5 separate regions of the Homo sapiens genome follow, and all the other regions are reported to be linked to region 1. Evidence: microRNA targets listed by miRTarBase, many of them from high-throughput screens and not tested one by one. Region 1 holds a microRNA gene; each other region holds the end of a gene's coding sequence.
What was found. Region 1 holds the annotated microRNA hsa-miR-5583-3p (GAAUAUGGGUAUAUUAGUUUGG, at 1,951-1,972, opposite strand). A microRNA usually pairs through its seed, bases 2 to 8, with sites in the 3' UTR of a target mRNA and lowers its output. Matches are read on the target gene's strand: a 7mer-m8 pairs with bases 2 to 8, a 7mer-A1 pairs with bases 2 to 7 and ends in A, and an 8mer does both.

Region 1 (5,107 bases):
GGTTGGTTTAGGTTTTCATCTAAACATTTGGATGTTCATGCATGTAGAAGCAAAAATAAGTGGCCTATTTTAAATACTGGCCAAAGCCTTTTTTATAATTCTTAAAAAAAAATAAACTCTCATGACATTAAATTTCTTAAAATCTACACATAAAAGTAGTGACTGCTCTCTCATATATAAATATAAAACTCCCAGCATGTAAGTGCATTAGCTAAAATAAGTATTTGATCCTTTCAACCAAAGCCCATTTTCTCTCCCACCCAAAAACCCTTGAAGTGTGAGTATTACACTACTTTCAGATTTCTATGTAGGCAGGGGATAAATAGTCTGCTTCTGTAATTAATAACTATTAAAGCTGTTTGACTGATCATATCTTTGGGTTCCTGAAATCTCTTCTGTGCAGGTGTGCGTTAATGGAATTCATTAAATTCATATATTTCAACAGATAGTAATTTACGATCTTTTATAAGATCTGTCAGGAGCCGCAGCAGGAGATACAGGACTGTCTCAGGGCATTATAGAGCAAACCGGGCTCCCTCCCTCAGAAATGGCTCGCCTTTGAGTACTAAATACGAATGTCAGTGCAATAGGTAGTCACATTATGTGTGTTCTATGACATTTGCTATCTGAAAATATGTAGGATAAGCTTTTCATCACTGGCGAAACCCTGAACAGGGCTGAATGATTTTCAGAGACACTGAAGGAAAAATGTGTGGGAGTTCTAACCACTTTATATTTGCCATAAAAAAGGAGAACTTGGGAACAGATCAAGGTTCTGAGAAAGTAATGAGTTTTCCCAGGGATGAGTCATCCTCCCAAGCTCACTAAATGGGGCAGCCTCTCCATTCTGACCAGTGTTTTCAAGGGAAACAGAAATCAGCCTTGACTTCTGTCATGTCCCACCCTCGGCTCAGCCCAAAGAGAACTGCTGTCCTGTCAGAGATGGGGTGTCCCTTCGGCATGGCCAAGTTTCTGAGTGGGCAAAGCCATCAGCCACTTTCTTCAGGAGATCCCAGGATGGCAGGGCCACATTTAGGAGGTGAAATGCTACTTGAGGGACTTTCATAATTAATTTAAAACTGAAAACAAGCCTGAGAGAAACAGCAAAGGTATTATGTAATTATCAGCTAACATCTAAGGGGATGGTTAGAGGTGAATGAGAGGCAATGCGAGGTAGGAAGTTGTCCTGAGCCACCAGGAACAGGATGAAGAGAATGAGTTGGGAAAATTAGAAAGTAACAACCTTAAAAGTTCCCTTTCATATTTTATAAATGGAGTAAAATGTTCTTCAGTGGTTTTGAAAGGGGAAGAGGGTTGAGTTGAGGTCAAAGCCGATATTGCAATGAATGCTCCTGTTTATGCAATGCTCTTACCATTCAAAGAATTCTTAAAACAGTTAGACGAGGTTGGCAGGCCCCCTTTTAAAGGAGATAACTGAGCCCTATCCCTATTCCGAAGCTAATTTATGCTTCCAGGGTACAGTGGTCGTTTTCTGAGCTTATCCTATTCTGGAGTTTCCTAAGGAAATACAGACAGAGGCATCTGCTTTCAGGGACCATCTAAAAAATCAGCAATACCAGGACCACCAGCCAGATCCAAAATGTGAGAATGTGAGAGCCCTCACCAGGTAGGGGGGTATGTTTTCTTTTATTTTGTTTTGCTTGTCTTTGGTCAAAAAAATATATTTTTAATGTATTATATGGGCATATATACACATATGTATATTATATATATATATAATGTGTATATATCTTATGGACAATATTTACTACATGGTTAATTAGAGAAGTCATTTACCTTTTAAAATGCTTCATTTTCTAAACCAACCTACCATAGAGATATCTATAGATTATGCACCCCAACACATTTCTAGTCTAAATCATTAAACATGAGACCCTTCGAAATATAACTTTTGCACAAATATGGAATAGATCTATGACGTGGAGCTAACCAAACTAATATACCCATATTCTGGCTAGGTGATCATCAGAATATGGGTATATTAGTTTGGTTAGCTCTACATTGTAGATCTATTCCATAGATCCTTCTGTTTTTTGAATTGTATATTATCTTTTAAATTGAGGTATAATTTACATCCAATAAAATACAGTGTACAGTTCAATTAAGTATATAGTTCAATGAATTTTGAGAAATGTATACACCCACATAATAAGTCCCCAATGAAGATACATAATGTATTCATCACCCTAGAGCATTCCCTTCCCACCCTTTACCACTATATCCCACTCCATACCATCTCTGAGGCAACTGCTGTTTTGATTTCTGTAATGTCATATAAAGAGAACCATAAAGTATGTTCTGTGTTCTCTTTTATGTCTGGCTTCCTTCACACAACATAACATTTCTGAATCCATGTTAGGCTATGTATCAGTAGCTTGTTCCTTTTTTTTATTAGAGAGTACATATTGCATCGTCATACCACAACTTGGAACTATTCACTGGTTCATGAATATTTGTAATTTTTTTATGTTTGGTTATGAACAAAACTGCAATAAACATTCTTATATATAAATGTGTTTGTGGGCATGTTTTCATTTCTCTTGTGTAAATACATAAGACAGGAATCTCTAGGCCATATGATAACTATAGGTTTAATTTTATAAGAAACTGCCAAATTATTGTCCAAAGTGGTTGTACCATTTTTAAATGGACACTTAATAGTTATATATGTTTATGGTGTACAGAGAGATATTTTGATATATACAATGTGTAATGATCAAATTAGAGTAATTAGCCTATCCCCCACCTAAAACATTTATCTTTTCTTGGTGTTGGGAACACTCAAAATCCTCTCTTCTAACTATTAAAAATATATATACAAAAGAAATTAGCCAGGCATGGCAGCATGTGCCTGTAGTCCCAGCTACTCAGGAGGCCGAGGCAGAAGAATTGCTTGAACCTGGGAGGCGGATGTTGCAGGAGTCGAGATTGCGCCACTGCATTCCAGCCTGGGTGACAGAGTGAGACTCCGTCTCTACAGTAAAAAAAAAAAAAAAAAAAAAAAAAAAAAAAATATATATATATATATAATAAATTGTTAGTCACCCTACCATGTTTTAGAAGACTAGAACTTATTTCCCCTGTCTAGCTGAAATTTTGTTTCCATTAACCAACCTCTCCATATCTCCTGACCCAACCCTTCCTAGCTTTTAATAACCATCATTCTAGACTCTGGGCCAGGAGCAGTGGCTCATGCCTGTAATCCCAGCACTTTGGGAGGCCGAGGCAGGTGGATCACAAGGTAAGGAGTTCGAGACCAGCCTGGCCAGCATGATGAAACCCCATCTCTACTAAAAATATGAAAATTAGCCAGATGTGGTGGTGCTTGCCTGTAATCCCAGCTACCCGGGAGGCTGAGGCAGGAGAACTGCTTGAACCCAGGAGGCGGAGGTTGCAGTGAGCTGAGATTGCACCACTGCACTCCAGCCTGGGTGACAGAGTGAGACTCTGTCTCAAAAAATAAATAAATAAATAAATAACCATTATTCTATACTCTACTTCTATGAAACCAACTTTTTAAGCTTCTGTTTGTGAGGGAAAACATGTGATATTTACCTTTCTGTGCCTGAATTATTTTACTTAACATAATATCTTCCATGCTCATCCATATTGCTGCAAATGACTGAATTTCATTCTTTTGTATGACTAGTATTCCATTGTGTACATATACCTCATTTTCTTTATCTATTCATCTGCTGATGAACACTTAGTTTGATTCCATATCTTGGCTAAAACTATGGAATACTTCACAAATTTCTGTGTCATCCTTGGACAGGGGCCATACTAATCTTTTCTGTATTTTTTTTTTTTTTTTGAGATGGTGTCTTACACTGTTGCCCAGGCTGGAGTGCAGTGGCGCAGTCTTGGCTCACTACAACCTCTGCCTCCCGGGTACAAGCGATTCTCCTGCCTCAGCCTCCTGAGTAGCTGGGATTACAGGTACCCACCACCACACCGGCTAATTTTTGTATTTTTAGTAGAGATGGGGTTTCACGATGTTGGTCAGGTCGGTCTTGAACTCCTGACCTCGTGATCCACCCGCCTCAGCCTCCCAAAGTGCTGGGATTACAGGCCTGAGCCACTGTGCCCAGCCTTCTGTATTATTTTCAGTATATGTGCTGCTGAAGTGAGCACTAACCTTTTTAATGCCTTCATTATATTTTCAAATACTTCTAGGAATTAGTATTACAGGCAAGATTAATCAGTGTTAACTACTGATATTAGAATAATGATTCAATTTAAATCTTTCAAATAGTAATTTGTCAAATAAATATTCAGGATATCTTGTAATAGCTAAGTTTACAAAGAAAAGTAAGACATAGTCCTTGCTCTTGAGAAACTTATGATGTATTAAGAAAAACTAGAAGCCAATATGGTAAACGATAATGAATGTGCATAAACCAGTGTGGGGATATAAGGCAGTTACAAAGATCTTCACAAGGCTCAGGCTGGGCTTCAGATTCTTGAGGACATTTGAGCCTTGAAGAGGTCTTTCAGTCACTCAACATGTATTCCTTAGGTGCCAATTATGTTCAGATGCTCAGTAAATGGAATTGCATTTTGTAAGGAGGGAGACTCAAGGTCAAAGCAGGAAGATTGTATCCAATCTGGAGCCAGCAAATTGACAGGGAGAGAGAAGGGAATTAATAATTACTTCGCACCTATTGTCTACTGGGTGCTTAATCTCTCAGCAGGCCTAGTTCAAGATTTTTGTTCCCACATTACAGACGACAAACCTGAGTTTCAGAGAGGTTACTCTGCTTGCCCAGGTTCATAGAGCATGCATGACGCAGAACTGGAGTGTGAATGCATCTGGTGTCCTTGCAGAGTCCACTCCCAGGGCAGCTGCCTTTTTGCACAGGCATAGAAACAGAATAAAAGAAGATGAAGAGAGAATGAGGGAGGCACCAATGGCAATGTGATTTTAGTGGCTGAGGTTACATTATGCTTTAGCTAGAAATGGAAGCCACAGGGGCCTTGAGACAGAAAGTAAAGAGCTTTGGCTTTAAAATCAGAATTGCCTGAGTTCATATCCCGACTCATTCACTGGGTAGCTTGACCATTGTTGATTATAAGCTTAATCAGA
Region 2 (5,107 bases), not on the chromosome of region 1:
GGTGTGAGCCATCGAGCCCAGCCATTTTTTTTTTTTTTTTTTTTTTACACGGAGTCTCGCTCTGTCACCCAGGCTGGAGTGCAGTGGCGCGATCTCAGCTCACTGCAACCTCCGCCTCCCGGGTTCAAGTGATTCTCCTACCTTAGCCTCCCGAGTAGCTGGGACTACAGGCACGTGCCACCACGCCCGGCTAATTTTTTTGTATTTTTAGTAGAGACAGGGTTTCACCGTGTTAGCCAGGATGGTCTCGATCTCCTGACCTCGTGATCCGCCTGCCTTGGCCTCCTAAAGTGCTGGGATTACAGGTGTGAGCCACTGCACCTGGCCCAGAGAGGCTCTTGATGGTAAAGTAGTTGACAAACACACAGGTTCAAAGTCAGACAAAGGGCAGGGAACAGTTAATCGAAGCCTCGATTTGAGGCAAGACCAGAGTGGAATTGATAGTGGAATGATTGACAGAGCTTCAGATCTGATGTGAAACCAGTGATGCTGAACAAGTTAACCGAGGCCCAAATGTGACTGATAACACTATTTTTATTCTTTCTTCATTATTTATTCCCCCTTAGGTGGTGAGTCAAGAAAAGTGCCACCAAGATGAGTTTAAAGTAGAATGTCAAATCTGCCACCTCAAAATTTCACAAGGAGGAAACCCCCAAAATCATGCACAACAATATTCACAATCAATCATCTTGAATCCAGACTCAATAGACAATGTGAAGAGTGTAAACAAAAGAAGAAAGTGTTAGCGAAAAAGGAGGTTCCTCAAAATTATCCTGCCATCCACAGACCTTGGTAGAAACTGGGCATCTGTGTGGTGTTGCACACTGTGCAGAAAAACAGTAACAGAGCAGGCCTCAACTGCGATCCTTGGAAAGGCCTGCTTCAAGGTTGGCCCTTGGGTGGTGTCTAAGAACATAGACTCCAGGAGGGTTCCCACCATTCCCTAAGAGATAAGAATGGCTCACTCGGGCCGGGTGTGGTGGCTCACACCTGTAACGCCAGCACTTTGGTAGGCCAAGGTGAGAGGATCACTTGAGCCCAGGAGTTCAAGGCCAGCCTGGGCAACATGGCAAAACCCATCTCTGCAAAAATCAGCTGGGGTCATGGTGGTGCATGTCTGTGGTCCCAGCTACTTTGGAGGATGAGGCAGCAGGACCGCTTGAGCCTGGGAGGTTGAGGCTGCAGCGAACCATGTTTGAGCCACTGCACTCCAGCCTGGGCAACAAAGTGAGACCCTGTCTCAAAAAAAAAAAAAAAGAAAGAAAGAAAAAAAAGAATGGCTTACTCTACCTAAGCTGTTTGTATAAAAAAGTGGGCCAGGAGCGGTGGCTCATGCCTGTAATCCCAGCACTTTGGGAGGTCGAGGCAGGCGGATCACAAGGTCAAGAGATGGAGACCAGCCTGGCCAATATGGTGAAACCCCGTCTCTACTAAAAATACAAAAATTAGCTGGGCGTGGTGGTGGCAGGCGCCTGTAGTCCCAGCTATTCAGGAAGCTGAGGCAGGAGAATTGCTTGAACCCAGGAGGCGGAGGTTACAGTAAGCCGAGATCACGCCACTGCACTCCAGCCTGGCGACAAAGCGAGACTCCGTCTCAATTAAAAAAAAAAAAAAAAAGGTGGTTTATGCTGAGCCCCTGCTTTCCTTTTGGGAGCCTGGGATTTGGGTAGGTGCCAGGCAGGGGGTGCCTATGTGACCATGCCCCAATAAAAACTTGATACCAGCCAGGTGCTCACGCCTGTAATCCCAGCAGTTTGGGAGGCTGAGGTGGGAGGATCACTTGAGGTCAGGAGTTCAAGATCAGCCTGGCCAACATGGTGAAACCCCATCCCTACTAAAAATACAAAAATTAGCCGAGCTTGCTGGTGCGCGCCTGTAGTTCCAGCTATTCGGGAAGCTGAGGCCCGAGGATCGCTTGAACCCAGGAGGTGGAGGCTGCAGTGAGCCAAGATCATGCCACTGCATTCCAGCCTGGGCGTCAGAGCAAGACCCCCCCCCCCCCGCCAAAAAAAAACCAAAACAACAACAACAACAAAAAAAACCTCTGGGTGCTGAGTCTCTAATTGAGCTTCCTTGGTCAGCAACATTTCGCATGTATTGTCACAACCCATTACTGTGAACCGAGCACATCTTGTGTGACTCCAATGAGAGAGAAGCCCTGGAAACTTGTGCCTGGGTCTCTCTGGGAGTTGGTCCTGCACACCATTTCTTTTTGCTGATTTTGCTCCATATCTTTTTGTTGTAATAAGTCAATCGTAGCCATGAATACAACCACATACTGAGTCTTGGGAGTCCTCCTAGCAAATCACTGGGCTTGGGGCTGGTATTGAGGACCATGACACACACACACATACATGACCTTTACCATGGGAACAATCCAGCTCACTGATGTCCCTATCTCACCACCATGTACCCTGAGGTCTATTAGATGGAAGTGCCAGTTAGAAATGCTTGGGGTGCAAGTAACCACACTGTCAAATAACTGGACTGAACAAACGGGAGATTATTTCCCTCCAACAAGACTGTTGGTGCGAGTTCAGCAGCTCAGCAATGCTGGGCCAAGCTGGAGTCTCTACCACGCTGTGGACTGACCCTAAGGTCCCAAGATGTCAGTCGCAGTTCCAGTCAACGCATATGTGGCAACAAATGGAGCTGAGAAGGAAGGGAGGGGCCGGAGCAAGAGCCTCTTTGCTGCTTCAGGTAACTTTGACATTTTCTGGTGACGCAGGCCACTGATAAGTGATTTTGGTTATTTACCCCCATCAATACTCAAAGCTTTTTCTCCTCTCTTGGGGCTCCCCTCAAATACTTAACATCACTTTTTGGTCTCTGAGCTGTTCCAGGGCTGGAATTTGTACCCTGGATGGGGCTGGGAGGAGACAGGGGTGGTCTGAGGGATGGAGATTCCGCCACACAGCAGGAGGCCCCAGGTCAGCCTTAACTTCCCGTTGCTCCTGCACCAGCTTGGGGCTCCAGGACTCAACACCTCTGCTCCCTGCTTTTAATAAACAACACAATGCACAGAAGGGTTGGGAATATCGCCCCCTGAGGAGGCAGCAGAGTCCTGCAGCCTAACATAGTGAACCCCCTGGGGGTCCGACCCAACATTCCCCCGCCAACTCCTCCACTGTCACTACCCTGGTGCAAGTCCCCATCACTGCGCTCAGAGGGGTCTCCTGCTGGGTCCCCTGCTTCTACCCCCACCCCCAATCTGTCCCCTTCAGCAGCCAGAGGGAGCCTCTATGACCAAGTCAGATCATGTTCCTCCTCTGCTTGACACCTTCTGGTCACCCCCACTCAGAAAAAAAGCCAAAGTCCTAACTGTGGCCCATGAAGCATCTGGCCTGTCTGACCTCATGTACTGTCACACTCTGGTCCAGCAAGACTCTGGCATACACAATGATCCTTCTGGAGCGCTCCAGCCTCAGTGCCTTTAGGCTGGCTTTCTCTCTGCCTGGAATGTTCTCCCCCTACACTATGACTCCCACTCACTTCATTCAGGTCTTTAAATGTCACCCTGAGCCAGGCGTGGTGGTTCATGCCTGTAATCCCAGCACTTTGGGAGGCTGAGGCGAGTGGATCGCTTGAGCCCAGGAGTTCAAGACCAGCCTGAGCAACATGGCGAGACCCCGTCTCTACTAAAAATACAAAAATTACCCGAGTGTGGTGGCACACACCTGTAGTCCCAGCTACTTGGGAGGCTTAAGTGAGGATCACTTGAGCCCTGGAGGTTGAGGCTGCAGTGAGCTATGGTCATGCCACTGCATTCCAACCTGGGTGACAGAGTGAGACCCTGTCTCAAAAACAAAAAAGTCACCCTGTCAGGATCATCTTCCCTGATGCTGTCACCATAAAGAGCCCACTCCCCCAACTTCTGCAGCTCTGTCTCCCATCCTTGCTTTATTTTCTTCATACCACTCATCATTAGCTGGCCTGTTCCATGTTTTTATCTACTGTCTCCGCTATGATGCAAGCCCAATGAAGGCAGGCATTTCCATCAGTTTAGGTCAGAGCAGTATCCCCAGTGCCTAGAACAGTTCCTGGCACACGGTCAGGGCTCACTAATGTCTATCGAATGCATAAGTGTGTAAAACAGTTAAGGCAGGGCCTGTAACCCAGCAGACATTCAATCAATGCTTGTGGAATGAATGAATCCGTCGATGCATGAATGCACAAATGAGTCAATGAACCCCGTTCCACCGTGTTCCTGGAGCTGCCCGCTGCCCTCTGCCCTGTCCGTCCCCGGCAGAGCTGGGAGCCGGCCCTCAGCATGACCACCGAAACTTTATTTACAACACGAGGCTGGAGTAAGAGGGGTGGGATGGAGGACAGCAGCAGGGCCGACAGGACCCTACTTCTGCTCCCGCCTCCAGACGATGACCATGCCGCTGGCGTCACTGGAGGCCAGTAGGCTCTCGTCGCAGTTGAAGCTGACATCAAGCACAGGTGCACTGTGGCCCTGCAGCTTGTTGACAGCAGCCTTGGCCGCCCGCTCCACATCAAAGAAGTGCACGCACATGTCCTCACTGCCCGTCACTGTCGGGGTGAGAGGGAGAGGCCATCGGGAGGCGCCTGGGGTGCCCCTGGTGGGAAGTCCCTGAGGTGTCTGAGGTGTTGAAGGGTGTATGTCCGAGGTGTGAGGTCCTAGCATGGCTTGGGGAGGTTTGAGGGGGCCCCATCCCTAGATGGGAGGTCACCTGGCTGTTTTGGTACTGTGTGCAGAATGCGAGGTCTCTGGGCTGTTTGGGGAGTTAGTGCGTTCAAAGTGTGAGTTTTCATCACTTCTCGGCCTTTTGGCCGAGATCAAGTGCAAACTGTGAGTTCTCTGAGCTGTTTGGAGCTGTGAGTTCCACAGTGAGGCTGTTGGGGCAGGAGGGGTCATGAGGTCCAGGAAGTCAGGGCATCGGTGTCGTGATGTCTGAGCCAGGTTGGCACCAGCCCTGGTTCCTGCCCCTCCCCAGCCACCCAGATCCCCTGTCCCTACAGGACTCACCCACGCAGGCCCCCTGGCGGAAGGACATGAGGGGACAGAAGATGCTGCGCACAGGATGTGAGCTCTGCTCGATGGGGAAGCTTCTCTTCAGCTGCAGGGTCCCCTCGTTGTCTA
Region 3 (5,107 bases), not on the chromosome of region 1:
CCATTAAACCTCAATAATGTAACACATTATCTAAATACTAGAATTCCTAAAGGGAACAGTAGGTCTGAATTTGTAGTCTTAGATCAGAAAGTAAAGCGAAGGAAGACAAACTGGAGCATGGTATATACTTGCGTGATTTCCACTATGGGGTCTTCAGTAGAGTGGAGAAGTGCACAACTTCCTAGAAAATTTGAGTACTATTCTTCAGGCTAAGAAATATAAATCTTGTTAGTAACAAATGCGAAATTTTTGGTTTTCTCATCAGTGTGGGAAATTCTCAACACAGAGAAATGTTTACACAAAACTACAGTTGTGCTCATCAAAATATACTTGCAACTTGTGTACCCTAATTTCCCAAATACTCTTTTGTCTTTTCCTTTTCAGATAACCACATTTTAATATCAGCATTGGTGATTGCTAGCACGGTAATTTTGACAGTTTTGGGAGCAATCATTTGGTTCCTGTACAAAAAACATTCTGATTCTCGTTTCACCACAGTTTTTTCAACCGCACCCCAATCACCTTATAATGAAGACTGTGTTTTGGTAGTTGGAGAAGAAAATGAATATCCTGTTCAATTTGACTAAGTTTTTGGTAATCTTGCACTAAGACATCAACAAAATGCCCTGGCAGAGATAACTTGGGAAAGATTTTAATATAAAACTTGACATTGGATATTAGAGCTTTAATGGTATTCCTTATTCCAGTAACATTTTTATGTACTCATCTGCTGTGAAAAGTCTTTAGGTTCATTAAAAAAACAGGTTTTAGAAATGATCTTAGATCTAATATAGTGATTTTAAGCATCCCGTCAAAGGCAGAATCTGTCACTTGAATGAAGGAAAGCTTAAAGCCCAAGCAGATAAAAATAAAAGCCCAGCCTATTTGTCTTGCCTGCTGTATCTTCCCTATTTAGTTGACCCACTTTAGTTTATATGTTTATTAGTAAACATGAAATGGGGAATAAGTGATTTTAAGTACATCCCATACATTTAAATATCTTTGATAATTGTTATTTTTTTGGCAGATAATTCCTCTAGAATGTGTATCTTTTTATGATTTAGATGAAGAAAATTTTACAACTTTTAACACCCCACACCAATTTTAGTTTCATTACTTTTACACACACCATTTTATCACAAATGACTCAAGTTTTAATGAATGTTTATAAATTATTTGAAACAAAATATGATCGCTGTGTCCAGGATGGCATAGAGAAAGCTGGCAATTAGGTTAACACTTACATATTATAGTGCCCCTTTAAGGATTTCTCTCTTGCCACCATACCTTTTGTACTTTCCCCTATACAAGATGTATCTCATTCTCCTCAAGCATTTATAAATTTTTCCTTCAATGACATGAAAACTGTGCAAGCAAAAACCGAAGAAAAACACTTAAGTACAACTGTAGTGACAGTGATCAAAGTTTTCAGTGCATTTATTGTACATTTTAAGAAAAAGGTGAAAATCATTTGGGGAGTAAAAAAATGAAAAAGCTGAAACGAGTAATTTTCCTCACCATCAATAAACCAAAAACAGGAAAGATAAAGAATGTATAAATTTCACGTAAATTAGTCACGTATCACTTATCAATGGGGATACGTTCTAAGAAATGCATAGTTAGGGAATCTTGTGTGAAAATCAGCTTGTATTTACACAAACCCAGATGGTAGAGCCTATTTTGTCCCAAACCTACACAGCATGTTACTGTGCTGAATACTGCAGACAATTGTAACACAATATTTGTGTATCTAAATATAGAAAAGGTACAGTAAAAATATGGTCTACTAAGGAAACACTGTTCTATATGTGGTCCATTACTGACTGAAGTATACTGTCTAGAAGTCTGAGGCTCAAAGAAAAGTAATCCCTCTTCTGAATCCACACCCCATCAATTATCTTACTTTCTTCTGGGGAGATAGATAGATATACTATCTCACTAGCTTGACTAATGGCAACAAAGTTCCAGCTTGTGTAGTCTCTTTTTATTGACCACATGAATCGAAAACACTCATCACAATTAATGGCACTATCATTAATGAGACATGAGTAACTAAAAAGTGATAGAAAACTATTAACAGTGCGGCTACATGGTACTGAAAATGCAGGCATTACACCAGCTGTTACACAAGCACAAGCATGCTCTGTAAGAGCTTTACATTTCTGAGATTTTGTATAGTGATTGAGATGTCTATTTTATTATTGATAGACTATTACTAATGTCAATATTGAACACTACCCTGGAATTCCTGCCTGGTTTTCCTACCCAAATTGTACCACTCCTTGAAGAACTACAGGCACAGTAAAAAAAATATGGCGTATTATGTGAACTAAAAGAGTTCTAAAGGAGTTCTTAAAGGAGTGGTAGAATTTGGGTAGGAAAGTGATTAAGTCCAACTTAAAACCAACAGTCTCAAACGTCTACAACTACAATGTCCAATGAGCCACTAGCCACATGAGGCTATTTAAGTAAATTTAGTTTAAAATCCAGTTTTCGAATTACATTAGCCACATTGTCAAGTGTTCAAATCACAGGTGGTTAGTGGCTACTGTACTGGGCAACATACATTATAGAACATTTTCATTATAGGAAGTTTTATTGGGCAGTGCTGCTCTTAAATCCTACCTTCCACTCAACTCCCATACAACTTTCTTTTGTACATTTTGATACTTTCTACCTAATGGCAGCTCTTCCAAAATAGCTGCTTTAAACTCTGATTTAATTTTCAATATTTGGTTTCATTTTTCAACAGGCCAAGAGGCCTCTGGTAATGAAGTGCTATATATATATATATGATGGAGTCTCACTGTGCTGCCCAGGCTACAGTGCAGTGGCTCGATCTTGGCTCTCTCCAATCTCCGCCTTGCAGGTTTTCAAGCAATTCTCCTGCCTCAGCCTCCTTAGTAGCTGGGACCACAGACATCTGTCACCACACCCAGCTAACTTTTTGTATTTTTGGTAGAGACGGGGTTTCGCCATATTGACTGGGCTGGTCTCAAACTCCTGACCTCAAGTGATCCACCCACCTTGGTCTCCCAAAGTGCTGGGATTACATGCGTGAGCCACCACACTTGGCCTACATTTTTTCTTTATATACCAGAACATCTATAACAGGCACCTTATCTACTCATTAGTGAAGAGATAATTGGATTACACAGGCAGGCTTGTTTACTACATCCAGAATGTAGAAACTGCTTTCTTCAACATCTTGGTTCTAGCTAGTAATAACAATATAATTCTTTGGCAGATATTCAGAATAACATTTTAAACTACATTTTCTTAGAAAATTGCATTCTTGTAGTGAGCAGTGTATGGTCTCTTTTGTTCAGAATTTAAAACTGATAACCAATGAAAGCCTTTTCTCTTATTCCTCTACCGTCATTTACATGATAATCTGAAGCTAATATGACAATATTTAAATACTAAGTGGTACTAGGGAACTACAAGAATACTGTAAAGCTTAAGCCATTGTTATCACTGTCATTTAGCATTTAATAACAAAACTATACAGAATTATGTGCATACCAATGAATGTTTTGTACCATCTAGTTAAATTTTTTAAATAAAGTTTTATGGGTTAAGCAGAAGACAACTGTCATACTGAATTTTATTAAAAGTATATATACTTCAAATTCAAAGCATCCCTTAGGACCCACAGAATATATTAAAACTACCACCCTTAAATTTTATATTTTTGCTTTAAGACAGACAATGCAAAGGTAACTGGCAAGAGGTGAGCAAATGTTTTAGAACATTTATATTATTGCTTAAAATGAGATTTGAAATTGTAATAAAATTCTTGGTTATGAAGTCTGATGTCTTCTTTGAGCACCAGTTTAAAAGGAAACATTTCAAACAGTAAAATAAATCAGTGTGTACTTTATTTTGAGCCAATGTTTTACATAAGACCAACAAACTAAGTGTGGGCAAACTGTTCAATCACTTTTGAGAAATTACATGGTTCCTATTTAGGTTTGAAAAAGTAGTTTGTTGCCATAACATCAGACCTTAAGGTGTTTTAAAGTGTATCCTAAGGGTACTGACAGAAGAAAAATACAGTGTTATGGAAGTATACACAACTCATGACCACACAGTATAGATCCATTCATGGTGAATAATGTTCATCTGTTCTCCAAAGGTAGTGAAAAATATTAAGTCATCAAATAAATGCTCAGAATTACCAAGGAACAGTTAAAAAGGACCAGGATCCAAACAGGTTATTTATATATTTATCTATAAACAAGTGACAACACTAAAAAACACATTGAAAACCAGTGTTTTAAACTCTGAATGTGGGATTTAAAAATATTCCATTAACTTGAGATTGCAATAATTTTTTTAAACCAAATAGCATTTGACTGGCAAGTCTCATATAATTTACAGCTGTAATATTCCTAAAAGGAATATCTACATACTATAGCCTATCAAATATAATCTGCATTTTGCAAATCAATACAAAAATCTATCCATCATTTATACATTTTATATTTATATACTTTTTAAAAATTAGATTTTATTGCTAGGTGAATTTGGAATTCAAATTAAATTTGGAAACTTAATAATGCTCTTCTCATAACCTTCTCCCCATTCTTTTTTTAATTTTTAAACACTGGAAGCAAATGATTATCAAAATGAGACTGCAACTTAAGGCATTTTAAAAGAAAAAATAATTAGGTGCCATATAGCATTTTATTTCAAAAGTATATTTTGTCCCACTTTTCTCACTAGCAAGAGTAAAACACAAACCTTTTTTCATAAATATGACTACAGTAATCATAACACAAAAAAGGGTTGATAGGCATTGCTTAGATATTTAAAACAAGGGTAATACTTTCCCACTCACCTAAAAGAAAAAACCTTTTTGATTACCAGTTTATAAACATCGGATTTGCTATGTTAAAAAGTCCAGCAGAATTTTAATTCAGCAACACTGGAGAATGAATATATATATACAGGCATACATGTGTATGTATATATTCATTTTATATATAGTCAATGTATTTATTAGGCATTCCCCCACAAAAGTAATTTATATTTAATTGCCATTTTTAATAAACACTTATGTTCACAGATCATCCATCTGTCTTATATGAAGTTAGGCAATATC
Region 4 (5,107 bases), not on the chromosome of region 1:
GGTATAGATTTAATTGTGGTTTTTTTTTTCTCTTTTAGATATAATTGATCCTGTTGCTTTAGAAATTCCATTATCCAAAAACCTTCTGGCACAGATTAGTGCTCTTGCTCTTCAGCTGGATTCAGAAGATCTTCATAATTATTCAGGAAGCCAACTATTTGAAATGCACGAGAAACTAAGTTGTATGGCAAACTCTGTAATAAAAAATCTACAGTCACGTTGGAGATCACCATCCCATGAAAATTCTATTTAGTATTTTCAGAGAAAATTGAAGGTTTTTTTAAACATCACTGGATTTCTTGATTGAGGAAACAAGTTCTGAAATAATAGCACAATTTCAAAGAAGAGACTCTTTGCAAAGTTGATAACATTTCAAACCCTGAAGGACAGTGACTTATTATGTAAGTTCAATTTTGTAAGTTCATTATGTAAGATCCTTTTTTTTTTCATAATATGTATTCTTGGCTGCTATGCGTGGTTTTTCAGGAAATTTAATTATCTTACTGAGATGTGAAAGCAAAACTAGTAACAGAACTTACATTTTATTTCATGCTTTCTTAAACCCGTGCATATTCTGGTGAAACATGTAAAATACTTTAAGTAAAATTGAACATTTTTATTTGAATTTTTGCTGAACTGATAAAGGTGTTTATATTTTTGTTTGTTGGTTTGTTTAATTCATGTTTGTTGGGACTGAGGTTTAGGAAGTTTGTTACTGGTTAAAAACCTCAAATGAAATGCGAAAGAATTTGAATTTTTCCTGCATATGTCAACTTTGGACAGCTTTCAAGAAAAATGAGAAAAGTTTCAACTTCTGGCGGTTAAAATATTAATGCAGAATTTACTAAGATTTTATTCATTTGCATTAGCAAATATTCATGCAGCAGCAGTTGACTGAAAATTTATTCTTATGAGACGTATAGTATTCATTTTTAAATGCATGATTGTACATTATGTATAGACGACAATGTTTTTAATTTATAAATTTCATTCTTTGTTAATTGCATGGGTTTTTCTGCAGCTTATTGTGAATACCTTGGTTCTGTTCAATAGAAACATTTTGTATATATTAAATACTGAAATATCAGTATCGACGGTGGAAGTGCTTCATGGGCTTGCTGCACATATTTGTAGGATACTGTATCTGCAAATGCAACAACAAATAGTTTTGTACTTGGTTAACAGTCTTAGTTAAAACATGAGTTTATTTTCTAAAAGTATCCAGAATAAGTAAAATTATAGAAATAAGAAAATGTTACACAACTTTGCTGTTCATACCCTTACCTTCTTACTACTTTTGGTTTGGAGGAGGGTATCACCACTAGAAAGTGTGCCTCCTTAAGATTTCTTAAAGGAAAGTTAGTTTCAGTATTTCACAGCAAGTTGGACTACAAAATCTAGAGTTGATCTGCTTTTTAAACCTTCATTTAAAAGCAAACTTGGAAGAAATTTGAAACTGATGTTTTTAATATATGTCTGTGTTGCCTAGGTTTTCTTTTTTTAAAGAGGTATGTAATTAAAACCTTTGTAAAATTTGCCAACTAATATTAGTGCCTGACTTCCCATATTTGTTTCATCTTTTTAACTGACAGTATATCTCACTTCTTCTTTGAATAGAATGAGTGAGTGATCTCAGTTTTCACATTTTATTCAGAAGCTAATCCCTACTTAGCAAGGCACACATTCTACAGCAAGTCATAGAAAGTTTAATCCTTGTGCCTCCTTAGCTCTCGTATATTCAGGGATCTCTATAAAAGTTGGTGTCTTTTTTCATCATCATAAATTCATCATAATCACAGATATTTTTGGGTCTAAGATATTCATATACCAAGGATGGTTTTGTAAAGAATTCTGGGATCATTGAATTAAGGATTGTGGCTTGAAGTAACTAAAGAAAAATACTAATTTCCTTAAAAGGAATTATAATTATGATTTACATTTTACATCATTAATTTCCCAAATTATATTTAACCGTAAGGAGGTGCACATGAGTTTTTAGCAAACAGGTATGAATAAGCAGCTATGTATATGTGTTTGGGGCAGAGGGGAGCAGATTACTTTAACACACTTCAGAATTAAAATCAGTTCGTTTCATGACTCTGTGCCTTAACGTTTGTGTGAACTAAACTTGCTGATTGAATGAAATTCTTGGGAAGCCGAACAGTAATAGCAGAAAATGTGACCAAATGAGTATCATGTACTTAAATCACTGAATTTTATATAAGCACAAGTATTAATTTTAAAAACATTATAGTTTAATAAAGCTGCATTTAAAAATATTTGGGAGCAAAGACAAGCATGCTAAATCTTCATTTTGCTATGGCTATAAGCATATATTTTTGGCAACTTATTTGCAATATTCTTGCCTTAAAGTTTCCTGCAAATTTCCCCCTTAGTAATTCCCGAATAGCAAAACATTAATATTCCATGATTAGCTCTACTGTGTTGTCTCACTATTAAAATGGAATTCGTTTTTTCAGATCTTTTCTAATGGTTAATAAAACAAATGTCAGATCATAATAACACTCAAATGTGTCTTAATTGTCTTATGCATATTTAAGAAGAAAAAACTAGTGGCATACAGGATTGTCATGTAGTATCTTTTTTTTTTTTTGAGACACAGTCTTGCTCTGTTGCCTATGCTGGAGTGCAATGGTGCGATCTCGGTTCACTGCAAGCTCTGCCTCCCAGGTTTACACCATTCTCCTGCCTCAGCCTCCCAAGTAGCTGGGACTACAGGTGCCCGCCACCATGCCCGGCTAATTTTTTATATTTTTAGTAGAGAAGGGGTTCACTGTGTTAGCCAGGATGGTCTTGATCTGACCTCGTGATCCGCCTGCCTCGGCCTCCCAAAGTGCTGGGATTACAGGCGTGAGCCACCCCACCTGGCCATTTTCTTTTTTTTTTGAGGTGGAGTTTTCGCCCTTGCTGCCCAGGCTGGAGTGCAGTGGTACGATCTCAGCTCACTGCAACCTCCACCTCCTGGGTTCAAGCGATTCTCCTGCCTCAGCCTCCCAAATAGCTGGGATTACAGGTGCCTGCCACCACCACTGGTTAATTTTTGTATTTTTAGTAGATACGGGGTTTCACCATGTCAGCCAGGCTGGTCTCAAACTTCTGACCTCAGATATCCACCTGCCTCAGCCTCCTAAAATGGTGGCATTACAGGCGTGAGCCACCGCTCCTGGCCCATCATTTCCATATCTATGAAATCTATTTTGGATTTTAGAGTGGATTTAAATTTTCAATATTTCAGTGACCTCATTGTTAAAGCTGCTTTGCCACTTGTACAAGTTTGAAAACCATTGTTGAATCATATGGAGCTTTACTCTAATTCCAAATAGTTAAAGGATGAATCAGGTTAAATAATGCTGTTGGATAATACAGGCAAAAACAGGATTTAAACCCGCACATTAAAAGCATGACTGAAGGCCCGGCAGGTGGATCACTTTGGCCCAGGAGTTCAAAACTGACCTGAACAATGTGGCGAAATCCTGTCTCTACTAAAAATACAAAAACCAGCCAGGCATGTTGGCGCATACTTGTAATCTCAGCTACTCAGGAGGCTGAGACATGAGAATTGCTTGAACCTTTTAGGCGGAGGTTGCAGTGAGCCGAGATCATGCCATTGCGCGACAGAGCAAGTCTCTGTCTCGCAAAAAAAAAAAAAAAGTTTAATTCTAACATTGCCCATGGATTTTTTTTTTTCTGTACAGCTTGAAGATAAGATAGTTAAAGACTCTGTTACAATTTAAACATCATAAAAATGTGAAGAGTAAGTGGTGAGGCAAGAAACAAAATTGGGGGAAATGGTGGGGATCGTGAATATATAAGTGAAGTTTTATTTTTTTAAGGTGTAAAGGAGTGAGAATAGAGTAATTGCTTTTTAAAAAGAAAGTATAAATGGGTTAATTTTTTTCTTCCAACTTTGACTTTAATTCAGTAAGAAAGGCCTAGGTTTCATCTCATATTCTTCATAATTGATTTTCAAGAAGTTAATTTGTCATTCAGCCTAGGAGGCTATAAAACAGCAGTTAGTTGGCATTATTAGACTAAAACTTGGGTGGGGGGAGGAGACTGTTTCCTCATTGCTGCAACCCATGGTCTATCCTATTCCTAAGCCATTAGAAAGACCTTGTACTTTGTATAGAAACATTAGAGTGAGGTTTTGATTTTTAACATAGTACTCTCAAACTTTGATGTGCATATGAACAAGTGGATTCTGATTCAGTAGATCTGCATTGGGCCCCGTGAGTCTTTTTAAACACAGTCCCAGGTGATTCATGCAGATGCCTGTGAACTGCGCTGGTAGATGGGCCTAAGAGGCTTCAGGCTGTGTTTTAGGTTTTGGTAAGCCAGGCAGATTCAAGTCCTTTTATAACTGTCAATTTTGTGAATTGGGGATGCAGACTGGTTTTGAAGGCTTAAAGTTCAAAAATTATAAGAAAGTTAAGAATTTTGCTTAAGAGCCTTTTAAAAATATGGACGATTTATTTTTTAAGTAGGCAGACTAAGAATTTCAAGTTATAAAGAATCTTATTGATAAGGCAAAGTAGACAAAGTATTTTCTCATGAGTATTTGTGGGTTATGTTTTTGTTAATATAAAAGTTGATTTCTAAGTATTAGAATATATTTAGTCTCTAAATAAATCTTGCCTTCTATTATGGATCATCGTTATTAATAAACATGGAAAATCAACACTACCCCTAATATTAATCTGGCAGTTAAATTTAGTAGTGCTATAATGAATAAGTCAGTCTAGCAGATATGCCCTGTCATTATACTGCGGACCTCTGGTCACTTAATTTTCTGTTATATTATGTGGTTGAAAATTCCTGTTTCATCGTAAAGTGAAATTTGAAAGATGGAGTTGAATAATATGATTCTCGAAAAGTGAGTTTTTCTTGGAATTCTGTTAAGGTGTTAGATTTTCCTCACATATTTAAATAATCTGTAAGAACTACCCTGAAAGCACTAAGGAAAATGTAGCCGAAAGTTAAGTAATAGGTTTTAAAAATTTATCAAAATTTATTGATAGTTTGATCTGTAAAACAAATTGGGTTTCGTGCTTTCTGATGTCCAGTTAATAAGTATATTATGTGCCAG
Region 5 (5,107 bases), not on the chromosome of region 1:
GGGGGCTGGAAACCAAGGAAGGCCCCACCGACATCTTACTTCTCGGCCATATGCCTGCGAGCTCTGCGCCAAGCAGTTCCAGAGCCCTTCCACACTCAAAATGCACATGAGATGTCACACCGGGGAGAAGCCATACCAGTGCAAGACCTGCGGACGGTGCTTTTCGGTGCAAGGAAACTTACAGAAACATGAACGCATCCACCTGGGCTTGAAGGAGTTCGTCTGTCAGTATTGCAACAAGGCATTCACCTTGAATGAGACCCTCAAAATCCATGAAAGAATCCATACTGGAGAAAAGCGTTACCACTGTCAGTTCTGCTTTCAGAGATTTTTGTATCTCTCCACCAAAAGGAATCACGAGCAGAGGCATATTCGGGAGCATAATGGGAAGGGCTATGCCTGCTTCCAGTGCCCCAAAATTTGCAAAACAGCTGCTGCCCTTGGAATGCACCAAAAGAAACACTTATTCAAAAGCCCAAGTCAGCAGGAGAAAATAGGTGACGTGTGCCACGAAAACTCAAATCCCTTGGAGAATCAACATTTCATTGGTTCAGAAGACAATGACCAAAAGGATAACATACAAACCGGTGTGGAAAATGTTGTCCTTTGAGTGGCAAGAATTAGAAAAATCTTCAAAAATATAGTTGGTGGTTTTTTTAGTTATGATTTAAGTTTAGTTTCATTTTGTCCATGTGACAGTCATGAAGGAGTGAAATTAAAAAAAAAAAAAACTCATTTGTGAAAATTCCAGAAAAAGGATCCTAATATCTACTTTGGGTTTTAGCATTAACTTTATGCAAAGTGCACAAAAACAAAATAGCTGACTCCTCCAATATCCCAAGTTTCTTGTGAAAGTTAATAAAATTCTTAGCTGTGGTATTTCTACCAGTGAAAAAAGGAGTTTAATTTTAGCCTAGTTTAAAACTTTCTAATAATTGCTAATAAGAACTGGCTGCTGAACTGTCTTTAGTCACTGGAGAAAATAAGGGTCAGATATCCTGAAGATGGCATCTTCGTAAATATGTTACGTGGTAATAAGCTGTGTGACGGTCTTTATTCCCATCTGGCTTCTGCACTATTAAAATTTGTTTAAATTAATGGATACACATGAAATACTTAAACAATATAACTGAAATTATGTGCATAATGAGTAACCTAAAGTAGGACATTCATACATTATGTAGAACTACTTTTCTGCAACACAAACCTTGTAAAATACATATATAAATCACTATAACTTTTAACTGTCCATATCCCCTGTAGAGAATTATGAGGAGCAATAGATCTGCAAATAATGAGGACTGATGTAAAAATCAATAGAAAGCATTTTGAATATGATTTAAGAGCATGTGAATGCTTTTAGATGGAATGCTGTTCCCTTGAAGTTATGGCTGAGCTGTTCTTAGAACTGGTCTACTCAATTCACAGAAAACATAGGTCATGCCTTATCTATGGGGGAACACCCTCCCAGAATTTACCTGTGATTACCTGTGCTGCATATTACTTTGCAATGGCCTCATCTCAGAGAATGAAAGAGGGTCACATTGTTCTGAAACTCTCTGCAGTCTTCCAACCACCACAAGGCCATGGATGTGGGGGTCTATTCCAGACAGACTTAAGGGCTCAAGTGGAACCTGCCATCTCCCATTCCACTGAAGGACTGTCCAAGAGATTTAGTGCAAGGTACACTGCAGTAGTGAATTCCCAGGCACTTGAAAGTGACTGCCTAATCCCTACAATTACTAGCCTTGTTGGAGATTATGCAGCCCACAAGTACAGACTAGTATAAAGCAAAAGGACAAAGGAACCCCCACCCTCCACCCCACCCATTAATGACTTGAGTGGGCAAGAAGAAGTGATGGCCTTCCTTGCCTAAAACAGTAGCTTTGTTTTTAGGGGGTGGGAAGGTAGGATGTGGAGTGACATGGTTCTATCCTTTACTTATGAGACTCAGAAATATATCTACAAAGCCAGATGCTCTGTCTTCATATTTGCAGACATCTAGACCCCTTGCTAAAAACCCACTGAAGTTTTTTTTTTATGTTCTTTGACCCACACCATCAACACTACCCTCAAATCTAATTGCCCTACAGCATATTCTATCATGTGGACTAGGTTCCTGGAAAGCCGGAACTCATGATTCTTTTTCAAACTGCCAGAATAGAAGGGAGAGAGAAAACATTTCTACCCTTTGATCACCAGTGTGAACAGAATCCGGAATGCAGTTTCAGCGTGACCTGCAGTCATTCATGTTCATTGGATTTGACAGATGGAAACCCAAGGTTATCGAAGATTGGAAGGTTATCATTGTGAAGAAGTAGCTCAAAGGACTCCGGTTTCTGTCTACAAGTGTGATGTCTCCATGAAGAAGACTTAGTATGGATTTGGGTGGGTAAGAAAGCATTTAAACGCCCAGGAAAGGACATGATTAAAGTTGACCTTTTAATACTGTAGTACCTTGCTGTTAAGTAACCCCACTATTGTATCTGCATTTATCTTTTGTTCATCTACTTTCACTTACATACAGTATTATATAAGTAGAGAAAAATGGGAAAATGCAAGCAAATTCAACTTTATTTTATACATTGTATATATGTACACCCTACACTATTCATTTGGGTTTTATTAAAGAGATAGTCACAAAGGGCTTACGAAAATCATTTTTGAATTGATAATTAGAATATTGAATAAGCAATCCTATGATCCACTAATTTGTTTTATCAGTTAATAATATTAATCAAAGACATTTACTGTATATTCTAGTCATTTTGATTTGAGTTAACCCCAAATATAAAATTACCTGTAGTGATGTCTCTCTCCCAGCCCTTATATGTGGATATTTTTTAAGTGGACTTGTATGCTGATAATTCTAGACCAAAGTAAATATGGCAGAATATTTATACATGAAAAAATAATTTTGCAAATATTTTCTATAATTGTATTCATTTAAAATGTTGATAGCTTGTGTTAGTTTCAGGGAGGGGTGTATATTTTGATAAAAAAATACTTGACTTTGTAATTCTGTATATTCTATACAATTTATAGCAGAGCCGTTTTAAGACAGCCTTGTCACATTTTTTTGTTAATTGTGAAAATTTTATTGAGTGATGTTTAAGTATGCATTGAGTACATGACCAACTAGAATTAAAGTAAGTGTAAACAGTGAACATACTGTATGCTGTACAAGATATAATGTAACTTGCTGTTTTAGCATCTGTATTTTGGTTAGAAGATATTATTAAATGCAGATGTTAAGGATTGGAAAAGTCTAATTTTATTTTTAGAAATAATGGATATAAATTTGTTTTTGCTTGATTAAAATAGCTTATTCCTACATTAAGTCTCTTTTTAAATGTTTTCATGTTATTTCTTTTGTGCAGCTATTTCATCTGTGTGAGTCACAGCTTTGTTTCCACGTATTATTCAGTTTATTTCTGTTTCCTTACTTGTTTACATTCCGTGGTACCTACTTACATGCTTAGGAGTCAAATGGATTATGACATTAGGAAAAAAGCAGAATAAAAGAGATTGAAGTCTTCTGATGATTGAGTGTTTTGGATAGGCCTGATCTTATAATGATAAATCAGAGAATGAAATGCTCTCCAGGAAGCATTCTGCTCCACTCATCCGTGGGAAACAAATTACATTTATTGAGTACCAGGCACTGGGCAATGTCTTTACATAGGCTATTTCATTAACACACACGCACCAGAATTCGACCTCATTATCCTCGTTTTATAGTGACTTTGAGAAGGTCTCACAACCAGACAAAGCCAGGATGCTAACCTAGGTCTGCCTGACTCCAAAGCCCATGTTTTTGTTCCTTCTCAACACTGTAGAGAAAAATCATTTATAGAAACTGAACAGAGTATGAGGAAAGGAGATATGATAAAGTAATGCAGCTTTAGGATGGCAGTTAGTGACTGCCCTGGAACAGGATTAAAGGAGGCTGTGTCAGGTTCAGCTTCCCCTGAATTGGGCTTCCCTTATATCTCAGGAGATTGCCCTATAAAATCAGTAAAATTTGTGCACTTTTTTAAGGATATGGAGTAAAATTGTAATAGCATTATAAGCTGGTAATTTTCACACAAAGAAAAAAATACGTTCCGTCGTCACAGACTCTACTCCTAAACTTAGCTAACTAACTATCTTGCAAATGCCTGCAGTTTGTCCCAGTGGGCAATGTGAGAGGGGATGTCGGTGGCTCAGGCAGCACAGTCCATCACCAACACAGAGAAAATTACTGCCAGGCCTACCGGTGGCTGGCCAGTAGCATCAATTTTGTATTGGAAGGGCAATCCAAACCAGATTCACCAAAAATTTGATAACTGTTATCTGCTAAAACTAACTTCATTATGTACAAGAACAACAGATTTAATATTGAAAGCATCTGTAACAATTGGGAAAGTAAAAGCATAAAACAAAAGTGTTAGTATATTTTTTTCCATTACTTCGGATACTTTCATTCTTGCTACTCATCTTTTCTCATCACCTACTGATTGATTTAGTTGCACTCCCATCTGTCTCTTATCAGTTTATTTTTACAGAAGCAACAGCTCTTCCACTTCAGTTTCCTCCAAATCTGAGAATGCATCCCCCTCGCCCTCCCCAAATCCTGACCAGCTATTGATTTCTCTTCTGGAGAGAGAAGCCTCCTTTACTCCCTCCCTAGTTTGTACATCCTAACCCAGTTCCTCAAGCAAGATGGTCAGTGAGCAAGAAAGTTGGCTGGGTGTGCAATTTAGAACTATTCACTCTAAATTTAGACAACGAATGAAGAACTAGTTAGAAATGTTATATTTTATTATTTCATTAGTAACATCTAAAACATTCTATTTAGAATGTTTTTGTGGAAAATCAAACACTTTTTTGCAATAATTTTAAAATATATGACTTGTATGTAATTATAGGTGAAAGTATTTTATTCCAGTTAGAGAAACTGGTAAACAGACATTTTAAAGATGTAATAATGTGGCCGGGCGTGGTGGCTCACAACTGTAATCCCAGCACGTTGGAGGCCGAGGCGGGAGTTCAGGAATGGGCTGGCCAACATGGTGAAACCCCGTCTCTACTAAAAATACAAAACTTTAGCTGGGCATAGTGGTGG

Region 2: miRTarBase lists WDR13 as a target of hsa-miR-5583-3p. Seed matches in the 3' UTR shown: 7mer-m8 at 1,408-1,414.
Region 3: the mRNA of CD302 is a reported target of hsa-miR-5583-3p. Seed matches in the 3' UTR shown: 7mer-A1 at 1,244-1,250 and 7mer-m8 at 2,976-2,982.
Region 4: the mRNA of RIF1 is a reported target of hsa-miR-5583-3p. Seed matches in the 3' UTR shown: 7mer-m8 at 1,563-1,569.
Region 5: the mRNA of ZBTB38 is a reported target of hsa-miR-5583-3p. Seed matches in the 3' UTR shown: 7mer-A1 at 1,497-1,503.

The regions. Positions count from the first base shown.
Region 1 is chr18:39,674,769-39,679,875 of GRCh38, forward strand. MIR5583-2 (microRNA 5583-2) reads right to left here and starts at 2,009; the gene lies at 1,951-2,009. The region is part of intron 2 of MIR924HG (MIR924 host gene); the gene reads right to left. It overlaps MIR5583-1 (microRNA 5583-1), which reads left to right and starts at 1,953; the gene lies at 1,953-2,011. It also overlaps the pseudogene RNU6-1242P.
Region 2 is chrX:48,604,277-48,609,383 of GRCh38, reverse strand. WDR13 (WD repeat domain 13) reads right to left here. Exons shown (of 10, transcript NM_001347217.2): 9 at 4,994-5,107; 10 at 515-4,536. The coding sequence ends at 4,352. Among named protein-coding and RNA genes, the nearest start is that of WDR13, 9.3 kb to the right of the region's middle. RefSeq lists a silencer at 2,949-3,243.
Region 3 is chr2:159,767,331-159,772,437 of GRCh38, reverse strand. It overlaps CD302 (CD302 molecule), which reads left to right. Exons shown (of 6, transcript NM_014880.5): 6 at 385-3,810. The coding sequence ends at 587. It overlaps MARCHF7 (membrane associated ring-CH-type finger 7), which reads right to left. Exons shown (of 12, transcript NM_001282805.2): 12 at 1,411-5,107. The coding sequence ends at 5,096. It overlaps LY75-CD302 (LY75-CD302 readthrough), which reads left to right. Exons shown (of 38, transcript NM_001198760.1): 38 at 385-3,810. The coding sequence ends at 587. Among named protein-coding and RNA genes, the nearest start is that of CD302, 28 kb to the left of the region's middle.
Region 4 is chr2:151,474,819-151,479,925 of GRCh38, forward strand. RIF1 (replication timing regulatory factor 1) reads left to right here. Exons shown (of 36, transcript NM_018151.5): 36 at 39-5,107. The coding sequence ends at 253. Among named protein-coding and RNA genes, the nearest start is that of RIF1, 67 kb to the left of the region's middle.
Region 5 is chr3:141,445,367-141,450,473 of GRCh38, forward strand. ZBTB38 (zinc finger and BTB domain containing 38) reads left to right here. Exons shown (of 6, transcript NM_001376113.1): 6 at 1-4,426. The coding sequence ends at 610. It overlaps LOC124906291 (a long non-coding RNA gene), which reads right to left. Exons shown (of 2, transcript XR_007096120.1): 2 at 3,273-5,107. Among named protein-coding and RNA genes, the nearest start is that of RASA2, 39 kb to the right of the region's middle.